Linked DNA regions of Homo sapiens: region 1 is linked to region 2. The links come from fine-mapping of genetic effects on gene expression. A gene starts in region 2. The other region holds a variant in brackets. All regions are shown on one strand. Distances are from middle to middle. Region 1 overlaps RHBDL2 (rhomboid like 2). Region 2 holds the start of RRAGC (Ras related GTP binding C).

What was found. PIP is the estimated chance that this variant, and not a neighbour inherited with it, causes the effect.
Region 1: its variant is the best candidate, but not a certain one, in a credible set for the expression of RRAGC in skeletal muscle (GTEx, PIP 0.63).

What each region holds. Positions count from the first base shown.
Region 1 is chr1:38,895,949-38,898,971 of GRCh38, forward strand. RHBDL2 (rhomboid like 2) reads right to left here. Exons shown (of 8, transcript NM_017821.5): 5 at 21-121. Among named protein-coding and RNA genes, the nearest start is that of GJA9-MYCBP, 16 kb to the left of the region's middle. The variant A/G (reference allele first, on the strand shown) is at 1,674.
Region 2 is chr1:38,858,284-38,860,783 of GRCh38, forward strand. It overlaps RRAGC (Ras related GTP binding C), which reads right to left and starts at 1,489. Exons shown (of 7, transcript NM_022157.4): 1 at 1,127-1,489. The coding sequence starts at 1,363. RRAGC-DT (RRAGC divergent transcript) reads left to right here and starts at 1,610. Exons shown (of 2, transcript NR_186075.1): 1 at 1,610-1,956. RefSeq lists a silencer at 1,019-1,778 and an enhancer at 1,414-1,708.

The sequences.
Region 1 (3,023 bases), 38 kb after region 2:
TCCATCCCCATGGTTCTTACCACCAGAACATTCATAAAATAGCCTCCCATCAGAGCATAGACTCCTCCTGAAGCTCCCACAAGATATCTGAGTGGGTCAAAGATGGAGCTGGCAAGGGACCCTAAAGAAATAAAACACAAAGGATCAGACATGACTATACGGATCAGGAAAGATAAATCTTTCTAATCTAAGGTAGACATTTGGGAAGTCTGGTCTATTATCACATTAGCAAGCAACAAATCTATTTTGCCCCTTTCATACCATAGAAGCATAGCTGTATATGCTAACTACCACAGTGTTTCTGAAAACATGGAATGTTCATTAGAACAGCAACATAGCAGTGACAATGGCAGAATCGTCTGGAGCCAGAATTACCAGCAGTGTGACTTGAGGAAGTTAGTTGACTTCTCTATGTCTCAGTTTCCCTACCTGCAAAATGGGGCTATTAATAGAACTTACCTTAATGGATTGTCAGGGTAAATAATGAGTTGATGTGTGTTTTGTGCTTAGAATACTGCTTGATGTGTATTATATATTTGTTAGCTATTAGGTTGGTGCAAAAGTAATTGCGGTTTTGCCATTACTTTTAAGGGCAAAAACTGCAATTATTTTTGCATCAACCTAATATTATTGCAAAATATCCTATGTTCAGTCAAAATACCTGAGACAATCCAACATTTTATTATCTAATAGCTATCTTTCTCAATGAGCCATAATGTGCCCTCAGAATCCTTCTCAACATACGATCCAATCAGATTCCCCAAGCAAGATGAATCCTAATTGCTAACCTAATCCTAGATTTACTGGACCAAAACAAGGCTTTGCAAACCACCTTATGCAAAGACTAAAATATTCTCTCTATACTGCTTAGTTCTATTACTTGGTCTATTCCTTTCAAGGTCTTCTTTCATTTCCTTAGTGTATGATACAAAACAATACAGTACCTATTTTGTGCAAGAAAAAGTGTCTGTCCTCAGTAATTTTACAAAGAGATGAGCAAACAACTATTATAAAGTACAGAATATAACAACTACTATGACAAAAATAAATTTATTGTAGAAGCACTTAGGAAGGAGTGATTTTCTCAGCAGAAGGGTGGAGTCCTTGCTACTCTGAGGAGGAGGAGATAGCATTTTCATTAAACTTTGAAGAATCTTTTTTTTTTTTTTTGAGATGGAGTCCCACTCTGTCGCCCAGGCTGGAGTGCAGTGGCGTGATCTCAGCTCACTGCAAGCTCTGCCTCCCAGGTTCATGCTATTCTCCTGCCTCAGCCTCCCGAGCAGCTGGGACTACAGGCGCCCGCCACCACGCCTGGCTAATTTTTTGTGTTTTTAGTAGAGACGGGGTTTCACCATGTTAGCCAGGATGGTCTCGATCTCCTGACCTCGTGATCTGCCCACCTCGGCCTCCCAAAGTGCTGGGATTACAGGCGTGAGCCATTGCGCCCGGCCTAAACTTTGAAGAATCTTTAAGATTGGCCAGACACTGTGGTTCACTCCTATAATCTCAGTGCTTTGGGAGTCCCAGGCAGGAGATTGCTTGAGGCCAGAAAGTCAGGAGTCTGAGACCAACCCGGGCCACAGAGTGATATCCGTCTCCAAAAATATAAGAAAAATATTAGCCAAGCATGGTGGTACCCGCCTGTGGTCCTTGCTACTCAAGAGGCTGAGCCA[A/G]TAGGATCACTTGAGCCCAGGAGTTTGAGGCTGCAGTGAGCTATCATCGTGCCACTGCGCTCCAGTCTGGGTGACAGAGGAAGACCTCTCCCCTCACCCCCACACACAAAAGGATTGGATAAGAAAAACAAAAGAGAAGAAGGTATTCAGGACTTAGAGAACTGGAAAAGCAATGGCATACAAACAGGTATATGGATGACTGAAGATCAGTGAGAAGTAGTCCAGTAGGCCGGGCACGGTGGCTCACGCCTGTAATCCCAGCACTTTGGGAGGCCATGGCAGGTGGATCAGCTGAGCTCAGGAGTTCGAGACCAGCCTGGGCAACATGGCGAAACCCCATCTCCACTAAAAATACAAAAATTAGCCGGGCATGGTGGCAGACACCTGTAATCCCAGCTATTTGGGAGGCTGAGGCAGGAGAATAGCTTGAACCCTGGAGGTGGAGGTTGCAGTGAGCTGAGATGGCGCCACTGCACCCCAGCCTGGGCAACAAGAGTGAGACTCTGTCTCAAAAAAATTGAAAAAAAATAAAATTAGCTGGCTGTGGTGGCACATGCCTATAATTCCAACTACTGGGGAGTCTGAGGCACGAGGATCACTTGAACCTGGGAGGCAGAGGTTGCAGGGAGCTGAGATCGCACCACTGCACTCCAGCCTGGTGACAGAATGAGACTCTGTCTCAAAAAACAAAGAAGTAGTCCAGAGCAACTTAGAGCAATGATTCTCAAATGCTAACCTATAGACTAGGGCTGGGGTGATTATATCATAATCATATGAGAAATTTATTTTTAAAATAGATACAAATGTCTACTTCTGACCATGATAAGGTCACAAGAATAGGATTTGCTGTCTCACTTGAAAAAGCCAAAAGCACTGGACAACATATAGGAAAGAATGGTCTTCAAGATACTAGACATCAGAAAACAAAACCAGTAAACCCTTAGAGACAGGGAATCAGTTATTAATAGATGAGTTATCTGATTGCCCAGGTACTACCTTGAGGGAGATTACAGAATACAGCGCATGAAGCAGGAACCCAGGCAGATCTCAGCAAACTTTAAGTTGATGAGATGAAGTTTAGAGTCCAGATAGATCTGGACTGCTAGAGTTTACAAGACAGGGTACCAGAGAGCAGAAAGCTGCATACAGAAAACTCCAGAAAGGAGCATGCAAGGAAATTACCCAAGCCAAGGAAAGAACCACCAAAAATGAAGTGGGAAGACTACCTGTTGCTTACACAGCACCAGAGAGGCTAAGTAACTTTCTGTACTGGAAAACTCTTTTGTTTCCACACATCATAAGTCTGGGCATTTTATGACAGGTGAGTTACATCTCAATCTTAAAATATAT
Region 2 (2,500 bases):
GCAACAGAGTGGAGAGGTGAAAAGACCAGGTGCCTGCTGATACTAGTTTTATTACCAGCTCACTCCGCGTATAATGGGTTTGGCTGATGGAGGAAGTCAACCTTGCCTCTATTTAACCCTCACTAAACAGTGTAGGCCAGCGTGGTGACTCACACCTGTAATCCCAGCACTTTGGGAGGCCAAGGCGGATGATCACTTGAGGTCAGCAGTTCGAGATGACCCTGGCCAACATGGTGAAACCCCGTCTCTACTAAAAATACAATAATTAGCCGGGCGTGGTGGCGCGCGCCTGTAATCCCAGCTATTCGGGAGGCTGAGGCGGGAGAATTACTTGAACCAGGGAGGTGGAGGTTGCAGTGAGCCGAGATTGCACCACTGCATTCTCCAGCCTGGGCGACAGAGCGAGAGACTCCGTCTCAAAAACATAAACAAACAAACGTGTACAGCCCTCCATTTGTTCATGAAGGCCCAAAAGTGAAAACAAACAGACTAGGTCTGCAAAATATTCTCAAAGTCTCAGATTTTTAAAAACACACCCCTACAGGGGGAACAGCACCAGTAATTACATTCACCAGGCCACAACTACTGAAATGGGTGCAATCTCACTACCCAATTCCCAGTAATGCTACAGCGAAGTCTCCTTCACATCAGTAGCGAGAATTACAACGCCCAGTGTCTTAGTCACAACTCTTCCTGACGCTGCTCCCTGGGGCTCTGCTGGGAATCCCGAAACACTCAGGTCACCTGAAGTGAGAACAAATCAAAACGGGCCAGGGGAGGGAGTCCACGAAGTTCTCCAAGTGAGAACTGGAGAGTACGTCTCAGTTTCGTAAATGACACAGGAGCTGGGTCCCAGGGGGCGGAGGTCTTGGGCGGTGCCACCGGGCACCTGCCTCCCGGCAACCAGTTTCGCCTTCAGCGCTCCACTTGGCTTCAGCTGACTTGGGCGTGGACACAGAGGTCGGGGTCCCCGCGCGGGCCGCGCCTGTGCGCTCGCAAGAGTGGAAGAGAAAGTGCGGAGGGACGGAGCGCAGGCGGGCCCCGGCCGCCGCCCTCCCGGGCGTCCCCGCTACCGGCCACCTGAGAACCGGGGAGGGGGCGGGGGACTGGGCGCAGCCCTGCTCACCTTCTGGATGGAGGACTTGCCGCTGCGCCGGAGTCCCATGAGCAGAATCCTCGGCTTGGAGCTGTCAGCGCCCCCCGGACCACAGCCACCGCCTGCCCCTGCCCCAACCCCTCCGCCCGCCGCCGCCGCCTCCTCTTCCTCCTCCTCCACGCCGTAGCCGAAGTCCTTTGGAAACGAATCGGCCGCGCCGTAACTGCCGGCGAGGGGCGTCTCCTCCGCCCCGTACTGCAGGGACATGGTGCTGGAGCCGCCGCCGCCCGCGCCCTGACAGGCCAGGCCAGGCCGAGCCAGGCCGCCGCCTCCCCAGTCCGCCTCCGCCGCCGCCGCCACCACCGCCACCGCCCCCGGCAGCCGCCACAGTCCGGCCCGCCCCCCGGAGCCCGGCTCTCATAGGCCCCGAGCCGAAGCCCAGCCGCTTATTGGCCGCCCGAGCTGCTACTCGAGAGCAGCAGGGTAGGTGGTGCCCCGTCACGTGCCGGAATCACCTGACTCAGAGCCGCGGAGGGGGGAGGAGGAGTCACGAGGAGGGCGGCCCGGCCGCGCCTCTAGCCCCGGCTCGGGCCCTCAGCCCTCCGCCCCGGCCCGCATACAACGCTGTCTGCACCGCTCCCCTGCCTTCTTCCGGGCTCCCAGAGCACCGCTATGGAGATGCTCTCCCGGCATTTGAGGAAGAATTGATTGTCCTCATCCTGCAACTGTACTTGCCCAACCGATATTTATTGATGCCTGCAGTGTCCTGGGTGCCTACCAAGGGGCACAGAACTGGATCCGACGCAGACCCTGCCTGCCTTCAGGTTGCTTGAAGATGAACAGAGAGATCGGACCTCTGCGTAAGTAACCTCGCTACGAAATATTATGTGGGAAGGTCACGGATAAATAATGCTCGGGAGTTGAATGAGAAAGCGTCTGAGCAGATCTAGGTGGATGGATAGATTGGGATGTGCAAAGGTATGGGGGAGCCAGCCACACTGAGGGCAAACCTCAACCAAGGCAGAGTCATGGGTCACCGTGATAGTTTGTTCTAGCAGGTAGCTGGACCCTGATGGGAAAGCAGATGCAGCCAAGCTAGAACATCTTATCTTCTTTCTTCAGTAAGTCGCCGATAGTGGATACTGCTGCCACTTCAAACCCAACGGGACTCAATTTGCCCTCCTTCCCGCCTTGTCAAAGTCTACTCTAGGAATTCCATCCCCCATAGAACACTGCCTCTTCTATGACCTCGTTCAGATTAGAGACCAAAGTATTGAATAATGAAAGCAAACAAAAGCAAATGCTTGTCACCAAATATGTCCGAGAAATCTAGAGGAATTTTTATTTTTGATAATCAGGCTCTAGAACTGGAAGTTTGAGAAGAGGATCCTCTTAAAGCACAGC